7 linked regions of the Homo sapiens genome follow. The protein of the gene in region 1 purifies or fractionates together with the protein of each later gene. This does not show direct contact. Each region holds a gene or a part of one and is shown in the gene's direction. Other genes may lie near its edges. The genes, in order: DLK1, ANO6, CABLES2, MYORG, CSPG5, MAP2K7 and PRAF2.

The links.
Region 2: the proteins of DLK1 (region 1) and ANO6 purify together in Homo sapiens (affinity purification with mass spectrometry; 3 studies listed by BioGRID and IntAct, with this or other methods). This does not show direct contact.
Region 3: the proteins of DLK1 (region 1) and CABLES2 purify together in Homo sapiens (affinity purification with mass spectrometry; 4 studies listed by BioGRID and IntAct, with this or other methods). This does not show direct contact.
Region 4: the proteins of DLK1 (region 1) and MYORG purify together in Homo sapiens (affinity purification with mass spectrometry; 4 studies listed by BioGRID and IntAct, with this or other methods). This does not show direct contact.
Region 5: the proteins of DLK1 (region 1) and CSPG5 purify together in Homo sapiens (affinity purification with mass spectrometry; 3 studies listed by BioGRID and IntAct, with this or other methods). This does not show direct contact.
Region 6: the proteins of DLK1 (region 1) and MAP2K7 purify together in Homo sapiens (affinity purification with mass spectrometry; 4 studies listed by BioGRID and IntAct, with this or other methods). This does not show direct contact.
Region 7: the proteins of DLK1 (region 1) and PRAF2 purify together in Homo sapiens (affinity purification with mass spectrometry; 4 studies listed by BioGRID and IntAct, with this or other methods). This does not show direct contact.

The regions. Positions count from the first base shown.
Region 1 is NC_000014.9:100,725,525-100,729,816, forward strand, and holds the start of DLK1 (protein delta homolog 1 isoform 1 preproprotein), read left to right. Parts: upstream 1-1,367; 5' UTR 1,368-1,544; coding exon 1,545-1,611; intron 1,612-2,871; coding exon 2,872-2,935; intron 2,936-3,411; coding exon 3,412-3,542; intron 3,543-4,292. UniProt on the Homo sapiens protein: May have a role in neuroendocrine differentiation.
Region 2 is NC_000012.12:45,348,551-45,352,264, forward strand, and holds part of ANO6 (anoctamin-6), read left to right. Parts: coding exon 1-81; intron 82-2,108; coding exon 2,109-2,224; intron 2,225-3,714. UniProt on the Homo sapiens protein: Small-conductance calcium-activated nonselective cation (SCAN) channel which acts as a regulator of phospholipid scrambling in platelets and osteoblasts.
Region 3 is NC_000020.11:62,404,292-62,408,705, reverse strand, and holds the start of CABLES2 (CDK5 and ABL1 enzyme substrate 2), read left to right. Parts: upstream 1-1,420; 5' UTR 1,421-1,429; coding exon 1,430-1,791; intron 1,792-1,811; exon of another isoform or gene 1,812-3,816; intron 3,817-4,414. UniProt on the Homo sapiens protein: Unknown. Probably involved in G1-S cell cycle transition.
Region 4 is NC_000009.12:34,370,399-34,374,112, reverse strand, and holds part of MYORG (myogenesis-regulating glycosidase), read left to right. Parts: intron 1-1,106; 5' UTR 1,107-1,169; coding exon 1,170-3,314; 3' UTR 3,315-3,714.
Region 5 is NC_000003.12:47,565,213-47,568,926, reverse strand, and holds part of CSPG5 (chondroitin sulfate proteoglycan 5 isoform 1 precursor), read left to right. Parts: intron 1-3,714. UniProt on the Homo sapiens protein: May function as a growth and differentiation factor involved in neuritogenesis. May induce ERBB3 activation.
Region 6 is NC_000019.10:7,910,208-7,913,921, forward strand, and holds part of MAP2K7 (dual specificity mitogen-activated protein kinase kinase 7), read left to right. Parts: intron 1-52; coding exon 53-166; intron 167-245; coding exon 246-365; intron 366-488; coding exon 489-596; intron 597-772; coding exon 773-952; intron 953-1,042; coding exon 1,043-1,123; intron 1,124-1,207; coding exon of another isoform or gene 1,208-1,228; coding exon 1,229-1,371; intron 1,372-1,941; coding exon 1,942-1,987; intron 1,988-2,089; coding exon 2,090-2,224; 3' UTR 2,225-3,714. UniProt on the Homo sapiens protein: Dual specificity protein kinase which acts as an essential component of the MAP kinase signal transduction pathway. Essential component of the stress-activated protein kinase/c-Jun N-terminal kinase (SAP/JNK) signaling pathway.
Region 7 is NC_000023.11:49,070,989-49,075,172, reverse strand, and holds PRAF2 (PRA1 family protein 2), read left to right. Parts: upstream 1-1,170; 5' UTR 1,171-1,185; coding exon 1,186-1,364; intron 1,365-2,522; coding exon 2,523-2,740; intron 2,741-3,164; coding exon 3,165-3,304; 3' UTR 3,305-4,012; downstream 4,013-4,184. Other genes in the region: WDR45 (WD repeat domain phosphoinositide-interacting protein 4), read left to right, coding at 1-37, 261-370. UniProt on the Homo sapiens protein: May be involved in ER/Golgi transport and vesicular traffic. Plays a proapoptotic role in cerulenin-induced neuroblastoma apoptosis.

The DNA.
Region 1 (4,292 bases):
GTATCCTAAACGACCCACCCAAAGATTGGGACGCCTGGGACCCTTCCCCCAGGAGGTGAAATATCTTTAATCCCCTCCTACCCCTCTCCCTCCCTATCTTTCTGAGCCTCCCCCATCCAGACTGGGTGCAGGGGTGCAGAGCTTTCCTCTCCAGCAGGGCTCTAAGCCTAAGCCGGGGGCAATGGGGAGGAGGGGTGTCTGAGGAGCACTCCCTCTCCCTGGGAGCTCTGCAGAGGAAGAGGGTCTCTGGCAATCAGCATCCTCTACCTCCACCTCTCCAGCGGGCGACCCCTCAGAGAAGGTCTCCCAGTGAGTCTGGAATACGTGCCGAGTGCCTGGAGTGCTATTGTGTGTATGTGAGAGCACATTGGTGAGGCTGCCCATGCATGCCACTGTGGACAAAGACAGATGCGATCGTGTGTGTGTGGGGACTGCGTATATGTTTTTGTCAGTGTGTGTGACCACGAGTCAGCTGGGTATGTGTGCTTGTGGGTATCAGGTGCATGGCTGTGCGTACATGTGTGCGTAAGAGTCGGTGCATTTGTGTTTCAGCGCGGCTAAGGCCCTGACTGAGATGCTGTGTGTGCGGGGGTGGGTGTGACTGAATGCGGGCACGGGTGTCCGTCTGTTTATACGTGTGTTTGCGTGTTTGGGTGTGCAGGTGGCTCTGCGTAAGCGTCTGTGTGCAGGGGGTCGGCACATGGGGGAGGATGCCCATGGTTGGGTAACCGCAGGTCCGCTTGACCCTCTGCCACCTAGGACTGTGTCTATACGGCGTCTGGGCTACAGTGTGTTTGAGTTGCCGTGTGCGTTTCCGTTGCGGGGTGTGGGTTGCCACGGGGCAACTGCATTTTTCTGCGTCTTCATGGCCAGGGGTACAGGGGGCGTCGGGCTTTTCCTGGGGGTTTTTCTGTGTGCGTGTGTAATTATGTGCTTAGTTCACATCTTCATAGTGCGCCTTTGTGTTTTCCTGGGTATCTAACCATTGCACGTGTGCCCGGGACTTCAGCGATAAGTGTTTCGGTGTTCCTGCGTGCGGATTTGTGCTCTCCGGGGAGGTCTGCGGCCCAGGTTCGATTCCTGCGACTTGTCCTAGGCAGGCCTGTATGTGCGCGGCGGCCGCGTGCTGTACAGTGTGAGGGAACGTGTACCAAACGCTCGCGGGATACCTGTGCCCGTCTAGCCAAGAGTGCACCCGTGTGCGCGAGCGGGCTTCTGGGACGCCGCCGTGGTCGGGGGCGGCCCTGCGAGGGGAGGGGGTCACAGGGACTGGCCGGCGCCGGCCCCGTGCGCACGGAGGCGGGGGCGGGGGGCGGGGGCCGCGAGGGGGGAGGCGGTACGAAAAGGGCGGCGCGCGCGGCGGCGGCGGCAGCTCCCCGGCAGCGGCGGTGGAGAGCGCAGCGCGCAGCCCGGTGCAGCCCTGGCTTTCCCCTCGCTGCGCGCCCGCGCCCCCTTTCGCGTCCGCAACCAGAAGCCCAGTGCGGCGCCAGGAGCCGGACCCGCGCCCGCACCGCTCCCGGGACCGCGACCCCGGCCGCCCAGAGATGACCGCGACCGAAGCCCTCCTGCGCGTCCTCTTGCTCCTGCTGGCTTTCGGCCACAGCACCTATGGTGAGTTCCCCGGCGGCCCGGCTCGCGCCCCCTCTGGGGAAGCCTGCGACTCCCCGCCGGCCGCCCGGTGCCCCGCACGCCCCGTCTCGTGAGCCCCAACTCCGCCCGTCCCGCCTAGCCCTAAGCCCCGCGCTGTGCCTGTCTCGCCCTACCCACCACGCTCGCATGCCAAGGCCCGTCCCAGGGGTCCCAGGGCGCAGGGGATGTGTGAGACCCCCAGCCCCTTCCCGCCCTGCAGAAGTGGCGCCAGAGGGGTGTCGGTGCGCTGAGCAAGGAGGTATGGAAAAATGGGGTGCTGTTGTGGAGTCTTCTATGAAAATACTCTGGGGTGCAACTTTGGGGTGTCCCTGTGTGAGCGTTCTGGAACAGGTCTCGGGGCGGGAGTGGGGGACGACTTTGCCGTCTTAGCCCCCAATTCCCAGAGAAGCCCAGCCTGAGCCCTTCCTGCGTGGCGCGTTTCTGTAGGTGAGGGGCTGCGACACTTCTGTCTGCAGCGGCCATCTGTCTCTGACAGCGAGAGAGTTGCCCCCTTCCTGCAGCGCCCCCCCACTCATTGCACCAGTGGTTGTAAGGGGGCTGTCTAGAAAGCTGGGGAGCTGGTTGAGTAAATGCACACAGTAGGTGCCTGTTAAAGTGTCAGAATCTCTAAGCAGTGTTGTTGCAACCTCAGCCCGCTAAGCAAAACCCTGTGTCGTCATCGTTTTTTTAATGCGAAGAGTCTGGGGTAGGGGAAAGAGGGAAGATTTGACCTGGGTGCCCGGCTTAATAGGGATGAACCTTAAAAAGAATGCAGACGCCTTACTGGGGCGCCCACCAGGTGAACCTGTCTGGGCTTTCCCGGAGTTGAACACCTCAAAATCTGCTCCTCTTTTCAGCTCAGGTTGCAAAAGTGACGGTCAGGCTGCATGCCCAGGGCTCAACATATTTCCCTCCACGGTCCCCGTCCCCGCTGTTAGGAGGACTTGAGGTGTCGTATTTGCTTTTGGGAGTCCGAGGAGAAGGTGTTTCTCCTGCTCCTAAGAACGAGGGAGAGTGTACTGTGGTCATTTCATTGCTGGGAACGTGGCAGAGATGTTTTTCCTGAGTGCACTGAGCCCCATCCATGCTCGGATAGGAAGTGCCTACTGTGTGCCAGGCTGGTAGGACCCAAGAGGGCTGTTGGTGCCCTCGAGGGCAGTGGTGGGCTGTGTGGGCGAAGACAGCCTTTGCCTTGGCCTGGGGCCTGGTGGGGTGAATTGTATAACCTTTCTTGTACCTCAGGGGCTGAATGCTTCCCGGCCTGCAACCCCCAAAATGGATTCTGCGAGGATGACAATGTTTGCAGGTAATAGAGTGGCTCCTCAGAGGCAGCTTGTAGGGGCCACGCAGAAGCCTGGGGAGTCGTGAAGTCAGGCAGAAAAAAATAGGGGGCTTGGCCACTACGCTGCAGCAAACAGCTTCCGGGCCCCTGCAGAAAACTGGTGGGGCGAGCTGGGGAGATGGGGGGGGCGGGGGGGGGGCAGCCACAGCTCCTGTCTGCGTTCTCAGAGGTGGGGGGGCAGGTGGGACCACTGCAGGCCACTGCGGCAAAACGCAGCACTCCCCCGGGATCTCGGGGCCCCTCCAAGTCGGCCCCCTCAGCTTGGCATGTTTTCTCTTTAAGTTTTCCCATTCAGGTGGCTGGTGTTTACTTCCCAGGACCACCGGCTGCCACTGTGCAAAGACCCCCAAGGGTCCTTGGTTCCACAGAAAGTAGCCTGAGCTGCCTCTCTACCCCTGCCCTCTTCATATGTCCCCACCTTTCTCCCCCACCCATTGCAGGTGCCAGCCTGGCTGGCAGGGTCCCCTTTGTGACCAGTGCGTGACCTCTCCCGGCTGCCTTCACGGACTCTGTGGAGAACCCGGGCAGTGCATTTGCACCGACGGCTGGGACGGGGAGCTCTGTGATAGAGGTTGGCACTCGCCTTTGTTCACCTCAGCTCTGCGTCCTTACCTGCCTGCCCTAGCCCCTACCACCTCCTCCCAGTCTCCTGTTGCTGGTGTTCCTCACTTCCTCATTCCTGCACACTCCGTGCCCTGTATTCTAAAGATCTGTTTATAAATTTCCTGTGGGTACCGAATGCCTCCTCAGAGGTAGGGACTTTATTTTGCTCTTCTCTGCGCCATCAGCACCCAGCACCTAGAGGGAACATGGCGTGGGGGCCAGGGAGCTGCCTGTTGAATAAAGAGTCACAAAATACACATACAGCTGGGCCGGTGGGACCACAGACCCCAGGCTGCCTGTCCAGGTCATGGAAGCCCAGTGATGGACAGGGCTCTGGGGATCTCAGAGCTAAGACTCCCTAGAAAAGCACACGCAAGACTGTAAAGAGGCTGCAAACAAACAAACGGGGTGGGGGGTGGCCAGCACTGCTCAGTGGTTGAGGGGCAGGTGCTGAGTCAGGGCCAGGAGGACAGGGCTGGGGGGCCTGGACTGAGTGGGTCAGGTGTAGGGGGAGGCTGCAGTTGGGAAAAGCTGAGAAAGGGTTAAAGTGAAGATGGGTGTTATCTGTTGATTTCATTAATTTATGCAATCTTTGCCTCCATTACCCCAAGCAATTGAGAGTTGGCTGTCACTGCATTTTCAGGCTGCGAAATGTTCGTCTAAGCCCATTTTCATTTGGCAAAACCAGCCCTAACGTTTGAGCAAACTGAAGTCCACA
Region 2 (3,714 bases), on another chromosome or scaffold:
GTGATAAACAATGTTAGCAAGTTTGGGATCAACAGACTTGTAAACTCTGGGATCTACAAGGCAGCTTTCCCACTCCATGATGTAAGTTAAAAGGCAAAAATGAACTAAAAGGCCTTCTGTATACTCTGGTGTTGACAATAGCAAAGGGCTAACTTTCCTGACTGTAAGTTTCTTCCTCAGTAAAATGAAGGGAACATACTGCAAGATTACAAGCTCATTTAGGGTAAGAACTAGGTCTTTTGTTCACAGATGGATCCCAGTTATAAAGATACTCAGTTTTAAAGGAGCGAATGAATGAATGGACAGGACCTCTCTCACAGTTAATGTGTAAAGCAGTATAGATTAGCAGTTAATCTGTGTTAGCATTTCTGAGACCAAAATGCCTGCCCTGCCACTTTCTAGCTGGATGACCTTGTGAAAGTCATTTAGCCTTTCTTCCTCCATTTCCTCATCAATAAGCTGGGGATAAATTATTACCTACCTCCTAGAGTTGTTAAGAGGATTAAATTAATCCATTAAATTAATCCAAATGTTAGTCCCTAGCATATAATAAATACTATTATAAGTGTTAGCTGTTTTCATAATTACTAACAGATGTTATTATCAACCAGAAAAGATTAGTTCTTTGTCAGCAAAATACATGTTAGACCTTCTCATTTATCATTTTCTGCAACATAGACTTTTCTTCCTCATTTGGAATACGATTTTCAAACTGTCCCCTGGAATATCCCTGGGCTTTTAAAAAGGCATCTGTCAGGGTTGTTGTGACAATGGCAGTACCCCAGATGGTTGACATTTTTTTAAGGACTACATTCTGAGACCACAGCAACCCCTCAAATTCAAGAGTACTTCTCTAGCCGAGAACATCTCTCGTGAAATGAAATTTTTAAAATGTGACCACTGTAAATGCAGGGACATTATAACTAAAGCTGTTTAAACTCTGTCATTGAAATAAATTAAATACTATATTATATTGCATTATTACTTTGTTATATTCACTATCAATTTATCTGACTGTGTAAGACCAAAGAAAGTAAAGACTGAGATTGGTAATTGCTACTGTGTAGTACATGTATTTGTGGATAGAGACGATATTGAAATGTACTGAATAACATAATAAAACTAGGACACTAAACAGCAGCTTGATACACATGGAAAAGTAGAGAACAGGGAGCTGGGTGAGGTAAATACTGATCCTAAGAGACCCAATGTAGCCATCCAGCCTGAGAGTCCATGTGTTTTACTTTTGTGCCCCACTGAATTTAGCTAATTGCGAATAACAGGACATGAATTTTGAGGCCACTTGCAAATAGCTGTCACGAATATTAATTTGGGATGCCAGGGTTCTCTAACAGTTGACATTTGCTTTTGGCCATGTCTTTTCCACTAAAGCCTCTTCTAATTGCAGTGGTCCTGTATTCAGGCTAACAAATGGTCCCATGTGGTATTTGAGAGGGAGGTGTGTGAAGGTCAGGGCCTGTGCCCTGATTTGGCTGGGTGGTAATCTGGTTCTAGTGCCAGAAGAAGAAAAATGAGTCAGAAAAAAAGGCAACTGGATTTAAGCAGGAAGTTTTGTTTCTTGAATAAGCTAAGTGTGTAACATGATACCCAGCTTTATTGTTTGTTTTCTGTATGTTATCACAGAATAACTGCTGAACTGGGGGCAAAGAAGCCTAGGTTTTAGAATTGACCCTGCTGCTAACCAGCCAAGGCCTTGGTTTCCCCATTGTCCAAGGAGAGGGGTGGGTTATCACGTGTTCCTCTGGTGTGGTGATTTGGGCACTTGGGTGGCCCAATTTTTCATTGTGTAGGACTGCCCCACTTAAAGCATTTTAAGCATCTCTGGGGCCCTCACAGAGTCCCTGCAGTGCTCCCCAGGATTGTAACACCCAATCGTTCATCCCTGCCCACATTCATAAATGACCCCCAAGGAGGGTAGTACCATGCCTGGTTAAGAATCACTAAAAATTAGATGGTATTTCCACCCTTTCCAGAAGGTGAGGACCCCTTGTTCACAATTGACTATCAAGTATTTGTATCACATTTAAGAAGCAGATTTGTGAAAACACGATGATTATGGTGCTTACATGTTCCCTTCTGCGTCACAGTGCAAATTCCGCCGTCAGTCAGAGGATCCCAGCTGCCCTAATGAACGGTACCTTCTGTACAGAGAATGGGCTCATCCTCGAAGCATATACAAAAAGCAGCCCTTGGATCTTATCAGGTGAGGGGTTGTAGGGAGTACTCCAGGGGGAGGCACTCAGGGTGTTACCCCCACAGCATCTGAATGTGACAGTACTCATCAAGACTCTTGCCAGTGAAGGGAGCTGACCCAGAGTGCTGAGCTTCGTTGGCCAGGGTTTTTATTGAGGCTTAATTATGTGGGCATGATTAATTGAATCATTACCCATCTCCAGTATCATCCTCCCCCTGGAAGATGGCCAGTAATATGTGGCTCAAAGCTCCAGTTCTCCAATCACATGGTTGATCTTCTGGCATGGCCAGCCTCCACCCTGAGTCATCTCATTAGCACAAACTCTCTAGAGGTCCACCATGAGCCACTTCACTGGCATAAACTATCAGGCGTAGTCCTAGGGTCCCACTGTGAATAAAAAGGCACTCCTATCTCTCAGGAAGTTCCAAGGGTTTAGAGGTTACCCACCGCCCAGGAACTGGGATGCAGACCCACCAAATTCCATATTGCACAGAAGTAAATGTTAGATGTAGTTTCTATTGTATGGTAAGACATGTACATTTTCACTCTTTTCTTATGTCTGCCTCTAGGTTCTATTTCGTTGTATCTCACAAGATACAATGACTAGCTCAAGAGTTTTTCTTCCCAAGGTACCCTGTTGGTTTTCCTCCAGAAGCTTACGTTGTTTGGGCAGGGCTGAGGATTCTGGCTTGTGGGAGATAGACCAAGAACACCCAAACAAGCCAATAAAACATGAAAATAAATAAACAGAATTTCTAATGGAAGTGAAGAAAATAACAGAGCAATAGGATGGGAGGGCAGAGTGGGAAGTGAGTTGAGGGAGTTATCTTTGAGGAGGTGACTTTTAAGCTGAGATCGGATAGTGAAGAGGAGCCAGTGCTTTGAGGACTTGGCAGAAGTCCTTCTAGGAATAGGGGCAGCTTGTACAGTGGCCCTGAGATGCACACACATTTGGCAAGTTTGAGGAAACATCAGAGACCAGTGCTAGTGAGAAACAGAGCAAGACATGAAGTTAGAGGGGTGGCAGGAGCGCCGAAAAGAGTTTAGACTTTAATTGCAGTGAGAAGCAGTTGTAATATTTTAAATGTTTAAGTCATTGTATCCTATTCACGTTTTGCAGATAATGTGGAGAATGGATTATAAGGGGTACAGGGAGCAGGGAGACCACTAGGTAGGAGGCTGTTTGAGCCAGGCAGAAGACTGTGGGAGCAGATTTGGGATGTGTTTGGGGAGTCGGGTCGACAGGACTTGTTTATGGATTGGATGTGGAGAGTGACGAGGAGAGGAGAGTTAACTTCATGTCTGTCTGGAGCCACGTACCTGTTTTTTTATGGTGTCTCAACACCCCATGCACTTGCCACCTACTTGAGAAAACTACTAGACCTTAAAAGTGAGAGTTTTAAACAAATGAATGTTTGTTTTGTTTTACATTTACCGTGGGAAATTTTAAATATATACAGAAATAGAGTATCATAGCAAGCCTGCATTCATCTGTCACC
Region 3 (4,414 bases), on another chromosome or scaffold:
TGTGTGCCTGCCCCAGCCTCAGCACCCTACAGCGCTGGACACACTCACTCCCCGCTCACGGGAGCCCCCAGGCACACAAGTCAGCACCCCATTCTGTGGATCCAGAATCCGCAGCCACCCCTCTGCTATGCCACCCAGCCCCGCGTTCTCCTAGACAGGACAGCTGCCCACCTTCCCCTAGGCCTGGCAGAGGCCTTGGAGGCCAACTTGGAAGGGCGGAGGGAAAGGAAATGGAGGTGCTGCATGCTGCGTGAGCCCCAATGGTGGCCCGTGAAGGCCCACAGGAGGGAGCAGGCAGGCGGGAGGTGGGTAGGGGCCTGAAGGGCAGGGGCCCATGCTAGGGGTGGTGATGAAGACCCTGTCTTGCCCACTCGCCCACTGCCTTGTTGGCCATCATGCTGCCTCCCCACACACCAGGTGCTCCTAGGGCCAGCGCTGTGCCTGTCGGTCCCACCGGGTCCCCAGCACCCAGCACAGGAGAGGCTGGGCGCATGCGGGCAGGTGCGAGGTACTGCAGCGCATTCGCGGACTGACCACTGCATGTGCCTGGCCTCCGGCCACAGCCCGACCCCCTCACTGAGCCAGTTTCATCCTGACAGTACCCTGAGGCTGAAATCATTGTCCCCTCTTTAAAGATACGTAAACCCATGAAAGAAAGCTGGACAGAGCAGGCAGGTGACACAGAGGTGGGTGCAAGGTCCTGAGTCCCTCCACAAAGATACAGCGGGTTCCCCTCCAGACTGCAGACAGGCTCCCGGGCTCCAGAGGCAGGCCCTGACCATCCCGGTGCCACGGGCTCACAGGTTCTGAAGTCAGGGGCACCCAGGCACAGAGAGGAAACAGGCCTGGGCACAAGGCAGGCTCAAGGTCACTTTGCTACTGCAGGAAGTGCAGGACTCTGCCTGGGGCTTTGATCCCAAGCAGGTGCCTTCTCCACTCAGACCCTCGTTCCCTTCTGTCAATGAAGGAGGCCAGATGGCACGCGGGCCCTTCCGGGAAGCGGTGGGGCTCCTCCAGGGGCCGCCCTGCGCCCGCTGAAGCGCCGCCCAGACACACCTCCGGACAGGGAAGTGTGCTGGGGCCTCACCCACGCCGCCCTGGGTCCGGAGCCTTAAAATGTGCGCTCGATGGAGGCCATCCGCGAAGGCCGCCATACAGCAAAGGGAACAGAAAGCGAGAGCCCCGCGGCCGCAGGTCCCAAGACGGGGACTCGAACCGGCGGGGAGGCGCGCAGCTCCCGACTCCCTGCTGCTGCGTCCGACCGCCTCTAGGACCCAGGGGAGCGCCCTGAGCGCGGCACCTCGCTGGCCAATGGGAGAGCGCGACGGCGATACATTTGCATGTGGGCGCGCCGCGGCCAATGGGCGGCGGGCGCGCGGGCGCGCGGGCAGGGGGTGGGGCGCTTCGCGGCGGCGGGCGCAGTCTGAGGATGGCCGCGGCCGCGGCCGGTGGAGCCCCGGGCCCGGCCCCCGGCCCCGCCGGGCCCCCGCCACCCGCCGCGCCGACCTCGGCCGCTCGGGCCCCGCCGCAGGCGCTGCGGAGGCGCGGGGACTCGCGGCGCCGCCAGGCCGCGCTTTTCTTCCTCAACAACATCTCCCTGGACGGGCGGCCCCCGAGCCTGGGCCCGGGCGGAGAGAAGCCCCCGCCGCCGCCCGCCGAGGCCCGCGAACCGCCAGCGCCGCCGCCGCCGGAGCCCCCCACCGGGCTGCCCGCCAGGACCCCCGCGCCCCAGGGCCTGCTCAGCCCCACGCAGGTGCCCACCGGCCTCGGCCTGGATGGGCAGCGCCAGAGGTGAGTGGGGGCCCGGCCAGGTCAGCCCAGGACGCGGGGTACAGGGACGGGGACGGGGGCCGGATCAGCCCAGGACTAGGGGTCAGGATTACTTGGGGCCTCATCAGCCCAGGACAAGGGGGTCAGGTGACCTGGGGCCTTGTCAGCCCTGGACAGAGGCCAGGACAAAGGGGTTGGGTTCACCTGGGGCCTTGTCAGCCCTGGACAGAGGTTCAGGTGACCTGAGCCCCTGTCAACCCAGGACACAGGGGTCAGGGTCAGTCTGGGCCCTCATCAGCCCAGGACACAGGGGTTGGGTTCACCTGGGACCTTGTCAGTCCTGGATACAGAACTGGGGGTTCCTGGGCTGGCTGAGGGTTTCCTCAGGCCCTGTCACCCCCCACACATAGGGTTCATTGTCCCCTGAATTCTCCCAGCCCCTGAATACGGGGTCTGGATCTCCACGTTGTCAGTGCTCTGAAATGGGTTTTAGGGTTCAGCCCTTATTACCCCTGAGACCCCCAGCCCTGTGGGTTCTGGACATGCCCCCACCCCCATCCACTGGTACCAGTGCCCGGGACACAGGGACACATGGACAGCCCTGTGCATCTCTTCGCATTCTTTGAACCGGGCCACACCGTCCATGCCCACCTCCTCAGACCCAGCATGTGGGCCGGGGTCCTCCTGGCACTGTCACTGACACCTGTTCCCAGAGGCCCCTGCACAGCCACATCTCCCATCCCACAGCCACTGGTCTCTGGCACCCCTCCTCTCCCTGTCACTTCCCTGCTGAGCCCCGCCCTTCCCCACATCACTCTCAGCTCGGTATCTTTGGGTCTGTCACACCCTGGGTCTCCACTGCTCCCCCTGCCTTGATTCCATTTCTGGGAACCACCTCAGCCCATCCCAGGGCAACCCCAACCATGAGCCCTGCCTGTCCAGCGTGTGCCCCCTGCCCAGATGGCCCCTGGCTGCCCGACACCCTGTGTCCTTCTCCCAGAGACCACAGGACCTGGGTGACCCTGCCTCCCACAGCCCTCACCTCCAGGAGTGACTGTGGGCTCTGGGCCCAGGACTGGCTGCTTGTTGCGGTTCCTTCTCAAAGGGAGCCACTGTCCACAGGTCCAAGTGCCTGCTGGGCGGCTGTTCCCAGAGGCAGCCCCTGCAGGTGTGCAGCAAAGGGGCCGACACAGAGCTCTTGGGTCAAGGCTGGCACGTGCTCCTTGCTTACCTGGAGGTCATCAGAGTTGCCCCACGCCCCTGGCCTTCGGGCAGGTGGAGGCATTGGGTTCCTCTAAGGTCTTTGGTTGGGGAAGTTTGGGCCCAGAACACAGCACTCTGTCCTCAAAGACTATGACGTCACATGCAGGTTGCGTCACACGCAGGTCGCGGTGCACTCCATCCTTGGAAGTGTTCCTGGCCGTAGCCAGGCTGAGGGTGCCTGCAGACCCAGGCCTGTCCACAAGATGTCCCCCCACGGACATGCCTGGCCGCTGCTCCAGGGAGGGTCAGAGGGATGATTGGGGCAGAGGGATGGATTTGCCCAAATGTGGCAGCCAGGCCCCATGCATTTGGCATGGCCAGCTCCTTCAGGAAGGCGGGAGAGATGGAACAAGGTGGTGACTCTCCAGGGCAGAGCGGCAAGGCCCTAAGGTGTGGACTCCAGGGGAAGCGGGCTCACCCCAACGGGCCGAGCTCCGCAGGTGTGGTGGGCTTTTCCCTAACCCCGGGCCCTGTTGTTTGACATGGAAACAGCTTTCTCCCTCAGTCCTGCATGTTGAGTGTCCAGAACCGGATGGTGACACCAGGCAGACTGGGTGCTGTCATAGGCCCTCCTTCCACAGAGTTCATGCACCCCTGTGTGCACCAGGCCTGGCGTGGAGTGGAGCCCACTTGAGTGGAGGGAGGCAGAGCGTGGCGACGCGCAGGGAAGTGCCTGTGACTGAGAAGGCACCCCCTGCAGGCCCAGAGCCTCCATGGTGACAGTTCTGAGCGCAGCATGCTGCCCACGTGCAGCACATCCCTGCCCTGTGGGATTGTTAGAAGGTGCGCTGTGGCCGGCATCCCTGGGACAGGATGGGACGTGGCATGGGCTGGGTGCCTGCAGTCCTCCTGCCGTACCCACCATGGGCCCAAGCGCCACCACCCCTTGCCTTGCCCAGGGCTGTCTCCTCCCTTCCCTCCTCCTTGGCCCCCATGTCCCTGTTCAGGTCTTTCCTGAACCCCACTCTGTTCCTGGAGGGGGAGGCGTCCCTCCTGGGGCTCTGCTGCCAAGTTCGTGGTGCTGACCTTGTTTCTGAGGGCCATGGCCCCTCCCTGATAGGTAGACCCCAGCGTGAGGACGTCCATTTCACCCTGCGTTCCCTGGGCCTGGCTGCTGATCGAGGGAAGGGTGGCTGCCCCGGCAAAAGGGGCTGCTAGCTCCTGGCTTGAGAGTTCTAGGATGAGTTGGTTTCAGGAAATGGAGAGAATTCTGAAAGTCCTGAAGGCAGCCCTGATGTTGGTCTTGTGAGTGTGGTGGTTTGACCTGGGCTCTGGGAACAGACTTGGCTTGGAATCCCAGCTGCACTGTTCAGTACCTCTGTGACCTTGAGCAGGTGACATGGCCTCTCTGAGCCTCAATCTCCTCTGAGAAGCGGGTTCA
Region 4 (3,714 bases), on another chromosome or scaffold:
CTGGCCCACAGATGTGGTGCCAGGAGCAAAGCAGGAAGGCAGGCATGGAAATGGATTTGGTGATGGATGATGGCTGAGAGCAGGGTGAGTTTGAGGGCAAAGAGAAGCAGATGTGAGAAACAACTGGCCCCCCATGCCAGGCTCCTGCCCCAGGCCCTAATGTCTGAACCCAACTCTACCTCCCTCCAAACCAGGCCCTGGGACTAAGTCTGGCTTTGGGTGTCTTCTTCAATCTCCAGACTTCATCAGGCTTTTGACTCAGGATAAAAACACATCCCTGAGCTGTTCTCCCTTCCTCCCTCCTCTCCCCCTCTGGGGACAGGGAAGCTAGCCTACCGCCCTGTTAAAAGTCTCAAGGGGGACTGGGCGAGGTGGCTCACGCCTGTAATGCCAGCACTTCTGGAGGCTGAGGCAGGTGGATCACTTGAGGTCATGAGTTCGAAGCCAGCCTGACCAACATGGTGAAACCCTGTCTCTACCAAAAATACAAAAATTAGCTAGGTGTGGTGGTGTGCGCCTTTAATCCCAGCTACTCGGGAGGTTGAGGCAGGAGACCCGCTTGAACCCAAGAGGCAGAGATTGCAGTGAGCTGAGATCATGCCACTGCACTCCAGTCTGGGTGACAGAGAGAGACTCCATTTCAAAAAAAAAAGTCTCAAGGAGCTGGCTGGACAATACCCCCTCTCCCACCCTGACCATCCACACCTCTAGGAGAGCAGGACTTTTCTAGTTCCTTTCCCGTCTCTTCAGCCCGAACGGCCCCATGTGTGATCTGGGGAGGCCTGGCTTATCCTGTGATCCTGGAAAGCTTCCTGACCCTCTCAGGGTTTGTTTCTCCACTAGGAAAATGAGGATGGGTGCCATCTCCCAGTCACATGGGCCGCTCCCCAGTCACAGAGTCCTAATTTGGGCAAGCATTAGGTCCCATGAGAAAGGGTGGGTTAGGCACAGATTGTCCTGGTAAGGGTCTCACCTTTGCCACTCTTCAAGCCCTCAGGTTCCAGTATTCATCTTCCCAAAGTATACACCTCCTCTTAGCTTGCGGCAGCAAATGGAAATATCATGGGATGAGATAGCTCAGTTCCATCTCTGTCTCCTCCTTTCAGAGCAGGTTGAGATGAACTCAGTCAGATGGCCCCACGGCCCGCTCCTTTCTTAGCAGCCCACTAATGCTCCAGAACCCTCAGGAGAAGAGCCAGGCCTACCCCCGCCGCCGCCGGCCTGGCTGCTACGCATACCGTCAGAACCCCGAGGCCATCGCAGCCGCAGCTATGTACACCTTCCTGCCCGACAACTTCTCACCTGCCAAGCCCAAGCCTTCCAAAGACCTGAAGCCGCTGCTGGGCTCCGCGGTTCTGGGGCTGCTGCTTGTGCTGGCCGCGGTGGTGGCCTGGTGCTACTACAGCGTCTCCCTACGCAAGGCGGAGCGACTTCGCGCGGAGCTGCTGGACCTGAAAGCTGGCGGCTTCTCCATCCGCAATCAGAAGGGAGAGCAGGTCTTCCGCCTGGCCTTCCGCTCCGGCGCGCTGGACCTTGACTCCTGCAGCCGCGATGGCGCCCTGCTGGGCTGCTCGCTCACGGCCGACGGGCTGCCGCTGCACTTCTTCATCCAGACTGTGCGGCCCAAGGACACGGTCATGTGCTACCGCGTGCGCTGGGAGGAGGCAGCGCCGGGCCGGGCCGTGGAGCACGCCATGTTCTTGGGCGACGCGGCGGCCCACTGGTATGGTGGCGCCGAGATGAGGACGCAACACTGGCCCATCCGCCTGGATGGCCAGCAGGAGCCCCAGCCGTTCGTCACCAGCGATGTCTACTCCTCCGACGCCGCGTTTGGGGGCATCCTCGAGCGCTACTGGCTATCTTCGCGCGCGGCCGCCATCAAAGTCAATGACTCAGTGCCCTTCCACCTGGGCTGGAACAGCACGGAGCGCTCGCTGCGGCTTCAGGCGCGCTACCACGACACGCCCTACAAGCCACCCGCCGGCCGCGCCGCAGCGCCAGAGCTGAGCTACCGAGTGTGCGTGGGCTCAGACGTCACCTCCATCCACAAGTACATGGTGCGTCGCTACTTCAACAAGCCGTCAAGGGTGCCAGCACCCGAGGCCTTCCGAGACCCCATTTGGTCCACATGGGCGCTGTACGGGCGCGCCGTGGACCAGGACAAGGTGCTGCGTTTTGCCCAACAGATCCGCCTGCACCACTTCAACAGCAGCCACCTGGAAATCGACGACATGTACACACCTGCTTATGGCGACTTCGACTTCGATGAGGTCAAATTCCCCAACGCCAGCGACATGTTCCGCCGCCTGCGCGACGCCGGCTTCCGCGTCACGCTCTGGGTGCACCCTTTTGTCAACTACAACTCGTCGCGCTTCGGCGAGGGCGTGGAGCGCGAGCTGTTCGTGCGCGAACCCACGGGCCGGTTACCTGCGCTGGTGCGCTGGTGGAACGGCATCGGCGCGGTGCTAGACTTCACGCACCCAAAGGCCCGCGACTGGTTCCAGGGACACCTGCGGCGGCTGCGCTCTCGCTACTCCGTGGCTTCCTTCAAGTTCGACGCGGGCGAGGTCAGCTACCTGCCGCGGGACTTCAGCACCTACCGGCCGCTGCCGGACCCCAGCGTCTGGAGCCGGCGCTACACTGAGATGGCGCTGCCCTTCTTCTCGCTGGCGGAGGTGCGCGTAGGCTACCAGTCACAGAACATCTCCTGCTTCTTCCGCCTGGTGGATCGCGACTCTGTGTGGGGCTACGACCTGGGGTTGCGCTCACTCATCCCCGCGGTGCTCACCGTCAGCATGCTGGGCTACCCATTCATCCTACCCGATATGGTGGGCGGCAACGCCGTGCCCCAGCGGACAGCCGGCGGCGATGTGCCCGAGCGCGAGCTCTACATTCGCTGGCTGGAAGTGGCCGCCTTTATGCCGGCCATGCAGTTCTCTATCCCGCCCTGGCGCTACGACGCGGAAGTGGTGGCCATCGCGCAGAAGTTCGCCGCCCTGCGGGCCTCGCTTGTGGCACCGCTGTTGCTTGAGCTGGCGGGCGAGGTCACCGACACGGGTGACCCTATCGTGCGCCCCCTTTGGTGGATTGCGCCCGGCGACGAGACAGCTCACCGTATCGACTCGCAGTTCCTTATTGGGGACACGCTGCTTGTGGCCCCGGTGCTGGAGCCAGGCAAGCAGGAGCGCGACGTCTATTTGCCCGCCGGCAAGTGGCGCAGCTACAAGGGTGAGCTTTTCGACAAGACGCCGGTGCTGCTCACCGATTACCCGGTCGACCTGGATGAGATCGCCTACTTTACCTGGGCGTCCTGACCCAGCCCAGGGCCCGGTAACCGCAAAGCCCCCAGTCTTCATGCAGACCTTGAACCCTCCGTCACACCCGCACCATGTACTCCCAGGAACCTCCCACCTCTATACCACCCATTAAGTGGCTGCTGACTTAAATGTGCTGGAACCAGCTGCTGAAGGTGGGGCCTAGGGAGGGGGCACTGAAGCAATCTCCTGCTCCAACGCACAATCCTTACTGTGCCCTTTCCACCCCCACACTCACACCAATCTGCAGAAACCTCTTCCCTGGGGTGGAAGCCAGAGAGCTTAGAGGAAAAAGGTCAGCTCTCTTCCTGTTATACATGGTTATACATGGTTGGGGTTTAAAAGCACAAAGAGAAACCTCCCCCTCCTGGCTTTCGTGGCCATCTTTGTCCATCTTAGG
Region 5 (3,714 bases), on another chromosome or scaffold:
GCACTTGATGGTGTATCACTTATTTGACAAGCAGAATTTTCGATACAAAAGGTCTTTTTCTTTTTAAAATTTTTGTAGAGATGAGGTCTTCCTGTGTTGCCCAGGCTGGTCTCGAACTCCTGGCCTCAAGTGGTCTTCCTGCCTCAGGCTCCTAAAGTGCTAGGATTATAGGTGTGAGCCACCTGCCTGGCTGAGAAGATCTTTTTCTAGGGTTACTCATGATTTTTAGCTTCATCTAAGCTTTAGAAGTCTGATTATTGTCTTATTTTCCATATCAAGGAGAAAGGCTCTGCTTTCACTGCTGGGGAATTTCATGGTGGTCAGTGAAGCAAACGGTGGTTGCTCTTTGGGATGGGTGGAAAGACTTCTGTGTCCTTGCTGCTATTTGAGGATCCTAAGAACTGGCAGGGTTATACACAGCTGGTTAAGGCCAAGGCCCAAATACAAAACACTGGCAGAGCCTTAAGTCCAGGAGTAATCCTGTTCTTAGGAGTATGGGCTTATAAATATCAGTTGAAATCCAATAAAAGATCCTAATAGACCATTTTCTAAAGACCCTGGCCTAGTGTATTGCCTGGATTAGACTGACCAGTCAAATACTAGAGAGAATTTCAAAAACAAGGCAGAAACCATATCCAAATCTCAAATCATGCCACATCCAAATCCTAGAATTCTCTATATAATGCAGGTTCCATACTTCAAGATAAATGCATTTTTACACAGATTATTACACAGATAAGCAAGTTAAACTGAGACTTCAGACTGAAGCAATGGACTTTAAGAGGAAATTTAGAAGAAGTTCTTAGAAATCATGGACCATAGAGTGTCAGACCTCACAGGGGCCTCAGCACTCTAGACCAATACGGTCCAGTGGAACTTTCTGTGAAATGGAAGTGTTCTATATCTGCTCTGTCTACTACAACAGCCACTAGCCACTTGCGGCTGTAGAGCTCTTAACTACCACATTACACAGTGCAGACCTAGACTCCTGGGCTCAAGTGATACCCCTGCCTCAGCCTCCTGAGTTGCTAGGACTAGAGGCATGTGCCACCACACCTGGCTAATTATTTTAACTTTTGTAAAGTTGAGGTTTTGCCATGTTGCCCAGGCTGGTCTCGAACCCCTGGGCTCAAGTGATCTTCCTGCCGCAGCCTCCCAAAGTGTTGGGATTACAGGTGTGAGCTACCATGCCTGGCCTTCTTCCTTTTATAGATGGGGAAATTGCAGCCCCAGAAGGGGGAAGAGAGAATAAGAGTAAATGTGTGGCCTCATTCACAAAACCCCAGAACAGGAAATTTTGGCCTGGTAGAGGAGAAGTAAATGGGTGAATTTAAATATGAAATGAAAGAGGTAAACTTAGGATAATTTTTTAAAGTCTTTGATATAAAGGGTAGAAAAAGAACAGATTATTTCACTTGGTTTGTACCAAGATACAACAAGTAAGGTCAAGATGAACATTATAACCAAGGAAACACTATGTCTTATAAACTCTAAAATTGGTCACCATGTTCATCAACCCACAGAGGGCAGGACAGAGTCTCGGTGAGCACATTATCCCGCCCTCTGCAGTAACATGCACACAGTTACCACTTGCTGAATACTAGTGAGTGATGGTGGGCTATGGGGGCTCTCAGTTCCATTGGCTGATCTGCCATCCTGCAGATGGCAGCAGGTCTGCCAGGACGGGAGCTCCTGTAGTCAGCATGTTCACTGTCCACGGTTGGACAGAGTCCTCCCACTCTGCTTGACAGAGTGCAAGCATCCTTAGGAAAGTTTCTGACCCTTGTGTTTCTAATACCACAGCTTCAGACACCTTTCTTCTTCTCAGAGGGGGAAAAGAAAGAGCTCCTCTTGGAGGGCTTGGCTACACAGCCGGTGCGAAGGTTTCTTGTTCTTGGCTGATCCAGCTTTGTGGAAAGTGAGGCTTTTGTACCTGAACGCTGCCACTGACCCTTAGTTCAGAAGATGGCAAGCCTTGAAAACAGCAGAGCAGGGGGTGGTCAGCCACGGGAGGGTGGTGGTCGGCCACGGTGTGTGGTTGGCCACAGGCAGTGGTGATCTAGCATGGGGCTTGGGGGTCAGCCACAGGGCGGGTGAGGCTGGTCGGCCATAGTGGGCTCTGCCTGAGACAGGGTGATGGGGTGGCCAGGGCGGCACTCAAGCCATCCCTTAGGAAGCAGCAAGATCTGGCTCTGGTTCTCTCCTGGCTCCTCTTGGATCTTGAGGCTGGTGCCTTTTTTTATTGTAACCAAATACCCAGACTTCAAGGAGATTGAGGCTGGTGTCTTTCCGTCAGCTTGTGCCCAAGGGGACATCATCTTCTCCTCTCTGAAAGCACTGTGGATGTGAGGGGTGACTCTCCTATCCAGCAAGGAATGTAGTGGTGGATTTTCTACCTTCATCTCTAATTCTCTCCACCTCATCCAAAGGTCAAACTTAGTCATATTCAAGATCTTGTGGGCATTGCCGATGAACACGGTTGCCACTTGTTTGTGAAGTGAAGCCCTGCTCACTGCTACAGCCGCCACACTCACTGCCTGCAAGGGGTGCCAGCAGCCGGGGAGAGTGAGAGATCCTCCAGATGATACGGGAGGAGAGACAAGGGGGCGCCGGAGTCCAGCCTGCCTCGTGGCTTCTCCCCACCCCTCTCTCCCCACCCCCAAACTCCTTGCTGGTATTGGTTTTCTCTAAAATTTTGGAGAGTTTTATTTATTTGCATCGAGGTGTTATTTCTTTTACATACGTAAAATAGATTGAGCAGGTCATTTTCCTACACTGTCGCAATCACCTCTACCAGCCACACTCTGAAAAGATTGCAAGCAAAAAAGTCTGGGGCTTTGGGCCTGTGACAGGGAAGGGTCAGTGGCTGGTATCTGTGCCGGTGGCACCTCTTTCCCTCCTCTGCTCCTCTCTGCCCTCAGGCTGATGTGCGGCTCTGTAGCTGGTGGGCCTTAGGCTGAGTCTGTGTGAGTGTCTTGCGTAGCTGAGCAACCAGCCTTGAAGGGTATGTCAGGAGGCACAGAGAATGTAGGAAGCTGCCCGTGCTCCAGGCACACTGCGTGAATGAAGCCACCAGAAACCCAGGGCAGCTGCCCCAACACTGGGCTGCCCTGATGGTCCTCACAACGGTGCTGTCGAGACCATGGGGGTAACTTGGGTTGTGCTAAGATTTGACAGACCTTCCGGGATTTCAGTTTATTCCTAGGATTTCTCCATTGATGTTCCTGTGCTTTTTTTTTTTTTTTCCTATTTAACTCTTTCCTACTCTCCAGACTCTTCTCTTGCATGTATTTGTTAAAGCACTGACTGCCCACCCTCTTCCAATAGATGTTTGCCTCTGGCCAGGCCTGAACCCACATGACCCCTGGGTTGAAGGGTGCCCATACTGCTGGGATTGAATGCTGGGAGCAGTGAGTCCACAGTGGTTCCTAGGAACTTATGCCAGATGTTGATCCAGCTCCCTTGTGATGAGGTACTTCTATTAAGTCAAAGGCAGTTGGACCTGCTGTGGAATTCAGCTACCCTTGGCTTAATAGGATCAAGTTCTGGAGCAAACACCTGAGTTAGGAGAGCCCCATCTTGGTGTAGACATTCCTTTGCCTCTTGTGTTTGTTGGAGGTATTCAGCTTGTCTAATAGCACTGTTTGCATATCTCTTGCTTTTGGGATATGCTTCTTCCATCCCTTGGCTCAGAAGACAGTTTTCTAATCTAGA
Region 6 (3,714 bases), on another chromosome or scaffold:
GGGGGCGGTGGCAGAGGCCCCAGGGACCCTCCAACCCTCCCTCTCCTCCCAGCGCTACCAGGCAGAAATCAACGACCTGGAGAACTTGGGCGAGATGGGCAGCGGCACCTGCGGCCAGGTGTGGAAGATGCGCTTCCGGAAGACCGGCCACGTCATTGCCGTTAAGGTGAGCCTTGGCGGCTACCCCGGCTGCGCCCCACACCCCAGGCCGGTGCTGAGGCTCCCTCCTGTCCCTGCCTGTGCAGCAAATGCGGCGCTCCGGGAACAAGGAGGAGAACAAGCGCATCCTCATGGACCTGGATGTGGTGCTGAAGAGCCACGACTGCCCCTACATCGTGCAGTGCTTTGGGACGTTCATCACCAACGTGAGTACCTGGCCGCGCCCTGCAGCGTCTCCTCCTCCCTCACCCCTGCCCCTTCCTAGGGAGCAGAGCCTCTGGGGGGTGGGCCGGAAGACACAGCTCCCCCGGGTGCCCCTCTCCCTGCAGACGGACGTCTTCATCGCCATGGAGCTCATGGGCACCTGCGCTGAGAAGCTCAAGAAGCGGATGCAGGGCCCCATCCCCGAGCGCATTCTGGGCAAGATGACAGTGGCGGTGAGTGACCAGGCGGGGCTTGCACTGGGCAGGATGACAGAGGCGGTGAGTGACCAGGCGGGGCGTGCACTGGGCAAGATGACAGTGGCGGTGAGTGGCCAGGTGGGGCGTGCACCGGGCAGGTGGCCTTGGGTCTGTGCCCCCTGCCACATGCACCCCCCTCTGCGTGCCTGCAGATTGTGAAGGCGCTGTACTACCTGAAGGAGAAGCACGGTGTCATCCACCGCGACGTCAAGCCCTCCAACATCCTGCTGGACGAGCGGGGCCAGATCAAGCTCTGCGACTTCGGCATCAGCGGCCGCCTGGTGGACTCCAAAGCCAAGACGCGGAGCGCCGGCTGTGCCGCCTACATGGCAGTGAGTGGGGGCCCCCCAGCGGGGGAGGGGGTGGGGGCTGGGAGGCCGGCCCCAGCCTTGGAGATACGTCTTCTCCTCCCCCCCCTGCAGCCCGAGCGCATTGACCCCCCAGACCCCACCAAGCCGGACTATGACATCCGGGCCGACGTATGGAGCCTGGGCATCTCGTTGGTGAGTTGGGGCCCTCCCCTGTTCTCCAGCCAGGAGTGAGGGCTTCTGGGGGACTCGGAGGGAGGAGAACATAAACCTGTCCAGCCCTGCCCGTCTCCCTCCCAGGTGGAGCTGGCAACAGGACAGTTTCCCTACAAGAACTGCAAGACGGACTTTGAGGTCCTCACCAAAGTCCTACAGGAAGAGCCCCCGCTTCTGCCCGGACACATGGGCTTCTCGGGGGACTTCCAGTCCTTCGTCAAAGACTGGTGAGAACCTCCCTCCACTTGGGAGGTCAGGGACAGCCCGCTGCTCTGGGCAGCTGGGGAGGCAATGGCAGGAGGGGAATGGAGGCCGCACCCTGGGATGGGCGGATGCGACTGTGGGCGGGCTCCTGGCTGGCGGCTGCCACAGGAGCTGGAGCTGGTGCCCAGGGAGCCATGAGCTGGGTTTGGACCTAGCCTGAGGGGACAGCCAGCCCTGTGGCATTTGGCGGGGTGGCTGTTGGAGATTGTGAGCACGCTTCTGCAACAAGCACAGCTACAAGTTCAGGAGGGCCATGTTCGATTCTCTCAGGGGAGCCCCACCCACCTTTCTGGGGGACCTCAGCCAGCTCTGGCCCCCCAAGCCAGGCCCTTGCCACCTGGCCCTAGGCCAGGAGGCTCCGGGACTCACAGTTGCTCCCCGCTGTCAGCCGGGGTCCTGAGGACATCCACAGCTCCTTCCCCCACACACATCTTGGGGACCCCTGGCCCCTTGGGGAGGGCCTGAGCACAGGGGTGGGGCCGGCATCCCCTCCTCCCTCGTTCTCACATCTGTCTTCCCTTCTCTTGCTCTAGCCTTACTAAAGATCACAGGAAGAGACCAAAGTATAATAAGCTACTTGTGAGTACCTGAGCCCTCCCAGTCCCCGTCCTGTCCCTGCGGAGGCGCGAGGCCAGGAGGGAAGACCGTCTCCTCCTAAGCCCCACCCCCTCGGGCCCACAGGAACACAGCTTCATCAAGCGCTACGAGACGCTGGAGGTGGACGTGGCGTCCTGGTTCAAGGATGTCATGGCGAAGACTGAGTCACCGCGGACTAGCGGCGTCCTGAGCCAGCCCCACCTGCCCTTCTTCAGGTAGCTGCTTGGCGGCGGCCAGCCCCACAGGGGGCCAGGGGCATGGCCACAGGCCCCCCTCCCCACTTGGCCACCCAGCTGCCTGCCAGGGGAGACCTGGGACCTGGACGGCCACCTAGGACTGAGGACAGAGAGTGGGGGGTGCCCACCCACCCCCCCCGCCCCGGGCCTACCAAGCCCCCGCCCTTCCCACCCCGGGGTCAGCCGGCCGTGTGCGTCCCCCGACAGACACTGTGAACGGAAGACAGCAGGCCGCGATCAGAGTCGCTGTTCATTCAGCCGCAGCCTCTGGGCCGGGGCGGCCCCCAGGGGCCAGGAGAGAGCCCTGGAGTCCCGCAGCCACCATGCACGCTCCCAGCGTGCTGTGTCCTTCGCCACTCCCACGCGCCCGTTCCTCTTCCGTCGCCCTCTGTCCCCTGCTCTACCTCTCTGTCCTTGTCTGGCTCTCCCGTCACCCTCCCTGCCTCTGTCTCTCTTCTGGCCTGAGCCTGGGCCCAGCCACCTCCTGACGGGTCCCCTGGGTCTGCATAGGTCTCCCATGGCGCAATGAGTCAGTGGCCCCCAGCCAGGCAGTGTGGGCATTGCCACTGCGGCTGGACGGGGCTGCGCGCTCGCGCTCTCTCTCTCTCTCTCTCTCTCTCTTTGATCTCAGGGGGTCCTTTTTGGAGTTTATTGTATTTTATTGTACTTGGTGGGGTGTTTGGGGTGGGGGCGGAGGAGAGCTTGTTCTCGTGGGGTTGTCGGTACCTTCAGAAACTTTTACCAAAGTCACGATTAGCTGCTTGTGGTGGGGCCCCAACCGCCCTCGGGCACTGGGGAGCTGGGCTGGGGCTGCTGCTCTGGGGTCTCCGGGGGCCACAGCTTGGGGTGAGTTGAAGACCTCAGGGGATGTGGAGGGGTCTGCGGGGCCCTGGCCGCACAGGATGGCCTTCAGGGAAGGTGGTCTTGGGGCATGGTGCAGAGCAGGTGACCGGAGGGAATCGGTGACGGAGCGGGGCCAAGGGAGGGGTCCGGAGGGAGTCAGGGATGGAGGGCAGAGGGAGTGGATGTGGGGGTTTGAGGACGTGTGACAAGCTCCAGCAGGGGTGGGGGCCGGGCTGAGGGTGGGGGTGCGAGGTGGTCACTCCCATCGTGCCCCTGGCCGTCCCTCCACTCACCCACACCTGGCCCAGTCCACGTTGAGGTCCAGGACTGGGAAGGACCGGGTGAGTGCACCGGGGACCCAGGCCAGGTGCCCCCCGGAGCCTGCTGGGGTGGCCAGAGCAGGAGGGGGTGTGTTTCCTTTTTGTGGGTGTTGCATGCAAATCAAGTGGACAAGAAAAAATAACAAAACAAAAAACAAGAAAAAAAAAACACAAAACCCCGTAAAATCACAAAGAAAATCCAACACCAAAGGCGCAGAAGCCGGCTGGCCGTGGTGGGGGCAGCGTAGGCGTAGCATCCCTCTCCTCTCACTTAGCCTGTTGACTCTTGTTATTATCATGATATTCACAA
Region 7 (4,184 bases), on another chromosome or scaffold:
GGTCGCAATACTTCCAAGAACGTCAACTCTGTCATTGGTGAGTGGGAACAGCCCCTTGGTTGGGGGTACTGCATGGGGCAAAGGCCTGCAGGTTGGACCTGAAAGGATTTTAGGGCCATGTGAGGCTCAGCTTCATCATCAGTAAGGGGGACAGCACTGGGCAAAGGCCTGGAGGCAGACCCTAGGTCCTGAGATGCCTGAGAGGACTGGAGCCTGTGGCTGTGGCAGCCTCTGACCTTTTACCACCCCCCCTCCCCCAGCCATCTGCGTAGATGGGACCTTCCACAAATATGTCTTCACTCCTGATGGAAACTGCAACAGAGAGGCTTTCGACGTGTACCTTGACATCTGTGATGATGATGACTTTTAAGGACCCTGGGGGCTGTGCTAGGGACCTGCAGTGGCAGAACTGCAGAGCTGAGCCTTGGCAGTGGGGCGTGCTTGGAAGCCACCAGCCAGCAAGCATTAATGGGGCTGGTGCCCACTTTCCACTCAGCAGAGCTATGTCTAAATAAAGAGCTCACTTCCCCCCAGCACTTCTTGATGACTGTGTGCCCCAAGGGCCAGGCCAGAGACCCAGGAAGGCAGCGACCCCTTGGGATCCCTAACCTGGAGGAAATTGCCAGGGACCCAGAGGGAGTGCCCTAATCCAACCTGGGGATTTTTTAAAAGCTTCCTAGGAAGAGATGATCTCCGATGTGATGAATACGAATAAAAGGCCCTTAATGGCATTTACGGCTTGACCTCAGGGGCGGGGCATGGAGTTTCCTGGAGAAATGTGACCCTCTTGGGCGCTGACAGGAAGGAGGTGGAATCCAACTCGGATCCTTGTGACAGTCCCTCCTTTCTTATCTGTCTGGCTACTTTGTGCTTGAGCCGCTGGCACCGCCCGGAGCAGCCCCTGCGGCGCCCCGCGCGGGGGTGGATGGCAGTTTTAAGGGTTGGGAGCATCTCGCTTCGTGGCAAAGGCTTGATTTCCCGGCAGCCTTTGCTGCTTTCCTGAGCGGCGTGTTAGTTGCTTTTCCGGTCACGTGCATCGCCGCCCCTGCGCAATCCACCTAGGAGGTTAGGAAAAAGCTGCCCAGCCCAGACTCCATTTCCCGGTGTGCCCCGCGGTGGCGAGGGGCGTAACGGTTGTTGTAGTCCGGCCCCCTCCTGGCTGGTCCAGCCACATTAACCGGCAGGATGTCGGAGGTGCGGCTGCCACCGCTACGCGCCCTGGACGACTTTGTTCTGGGGTCGGCGCGTCTGGCGGCTCCGGATCCATGCGACCCGCAGCGATGGTGCCACCGCGTCATCAACAACCTCCTCTACTACCAAACCAACTACCTTCTCTGCTTCGGCATCGGCCTCGCTCTCGCCGGGTGAGGGAGGGAGGCGCCGGTTGGCCAGGGACGTCTGCAGAGCGTGGGGGTAGACCCACAGGTCTTTGAGGACCAGGACGGGGAACCTGAGGGGGGTGCAAGGCCGGGAAGGGCGAAGTCAGTAGAGATGGACGGCCTGAGGGGCTTGGAAGGGGGGCCTTGAAGGAGGTGGAGCCTAGTTATAAGGAGGGCCTCAGGGAGATGGAGCCTGGCTGATGAGGAGGGCCTGCGGGGGATGGGGGTCTGCAAGGAAGATATGGGGAGGATGGAGACAAGTGTGGGACTGAAGGGGAAAGTGGGCTGGAAGGTGAACCGGAAAAAAAGGAGGGCCCGAAAGGGGGACATGAGAGTACTTGAGGGGCGTAGGGGGGGTGTGATGTGAATGATGGGGCCAGATTGAGGCCGACCCTGGAGTACTTAGGGCAGAGACCGGGAAATAGACGGTAAAGTTGGAGGGTTTGGAAGATGTATTTATTGGGGATCCGGTCTTGGAGGGGAGCCTGGCTATGATTGGAAGGCGCCAGGGGCAGGTACCTGTTGGGGAACTTGGGCCCAGGAGGAGGATCCATGGTTGGAAAGCCTGAGACCAGAGAGGGATGGAGAATCTGGAGGAAGGACTTGAGCAGTGCTGAAAGTTCAGAGTGGGGCTGACGACCTGGAAGAGGTCCTAGCAATGATGGAGGGAGGAATCTATAGGGAAATGGGAGCCTGGAGGGCGGTTCTATAAGGACCCTAGGCCTGGGGAGAGGGGAACGTGTGAAGACAGAAGGCCTGAAAGAGGGATTTGCAGGGGCTGGTGTTAAAGGGGGAGCTTGCGGGCAGGCTGATGAGGGGCCCTACGGGGGCAGAGTCGGAAGGAAAGTCCAGGGAAGTGTTGGGAGCCCGGGGGTGTGGGGAGTGTCTAGCAGGATGGGAGGGCCTGAAGCGGGGACCTGAGGAAGACAGGACAGTGGAATTGACAAGGAGGAAAGGAGGGGTCTACAAGGGTGAGTCGGGAGCCCTGGCAGATGGGCCTGCTGGAGATAGGGCTGGTGGGAGGATGTGCCAGGCTGGAGTGTCCGGAGACGGGAGACCCTGGCTCTTGGGGCCCAGGGTGGGTGGTGGTCCGGAGGCCGTCTCTCCGCCCGGCCGGCTAGCTTGGTTCCCTTGTACCCGCAGGTACGTGCGGCCACTTCATACGCTCCTGAGCGCGCTGGTAGTGGCGGTGGCCCTCGGCGTGCTGGTGTGGGCAGCTGAGACCCGCGCAGCTGTGCGCCGCTGCCGCCGCAGCCACCCTGCAGCCTGCCTGGCCGCAGTGCTTGCCGTCGGCCTCCTGGTGCTCTGGGTCGCGGGCGGCGCTTGCACCTTCCTGTTCAGCATCGCCGGGCCGGTGCTTCGTGAGTCTCCACTACCCCGAGATAGCCAGGAAAGCAGCCAGAGCATGCTTAAGGCACCAGGCCAGCCCTGCCGGTCCCCGGGTTGAGAGGGGGCTGGGAAACCCGAGGGCCTCGCCACGCCCCCGCTAAAAGCGCCTTCCCGGGCTTCGTTCCCCCTTCTGGGAACACCCCTTTTATTATCGCCTTTCCTATCTCACTCTTGGTGTTAAGTGCCTTCCACTGGCCACGTCCCCGTTACCGGGCGTCTTCCCTGGCCATGCCCACGTTGCCAAGCCAATTACTCGGCCACGCTTTCAGTATCTGAGGCGTCCTGGCTGCTCACCACTCCATTGGCCTGCCTGCGCGCCAATTCCCTTCGGTGGGCCCCGGTTGGCTGCAGGCTGAGGTCTATTCCACTGACCACCCCTCTCGGTGCCGCCCACAGTGATCCTGGTGCACGCCTCGTTGCGCCTGCGCAACCTTAAGAACAAGATTGAGAACAAGATCGAGAGCATTGGTCTCAAGCGGACGCCAATGGGCCTGCTACTAGAGGCACTGGGACAAGAGCAGGAGGCTGGATCCTAGGCCCCTGGGATCTGTACCCAGGACCTGGAGAATACCACCCCACCCCCAGCCCATAATTGGGACCCAGAGCCCTTTCCCAGCACTTAAAACAGGAGCCTAGAGCCCCCTGCCCAAACAAAACAGGACATCTGTGACCGCCCTACCCCCACGCCAGCCCCAAACTAAGATATCCCTCACACCCAGCCCCCATTACCTAGGGACAAGAGTCTTCCCCAGCCTTGAACCCAGGACCAAGAGCCACCTACATCCAGCCCCAAAACTGGCTTCAGGCCAGAGCATCCATGGCCAATTTCAAATTGTGAACCCAGAGACACTCCCATCCACCCTTCTCCATGCTCATCCCCAAACTGGGGCCTGGGGCAAGGCACTCTCAAATCTTGAACCCTGGACCAAAGCTTTTCCAGACCCCACCCTACCTTCCAACCCAGGTCAAGACATTGCCAAATCTTGAACTCAGAACCCAAGTGTTCCATGCCCCTGTGTGGATGGAGTCGGGTATCCTGACTGTTGGACCCCTGGTCCAGGTGATCCCGACCCTCACCAGTCCCATTTGCCTCCCTCCAGCTCTGCTTAGGCATTTTGCCCCTCACCCCAATGTTCCACACCATCGACAACCAAGGGGTGAGGTGGGGACAGGCCTCAGCAGGGAATGGGGCGTATATGTTAGTGTTGCTGCAACAATAAAGCCTGTTGCATCTCTCATGCCAATTTGAGCCTCCTGGGTAAAGTCCTTGTACATTTCAAAGGACAGAAGTGGCCTACTTTTCAATTCTGCTAGACTCTTCCTGAATATGTGGGCTGAAGAGGTGATCTCTGAGGCCCTTCCTTGAACTTATGACCTCTGGATCAGCATTAAAGCACAGGGAAGGACAGGTGCAGT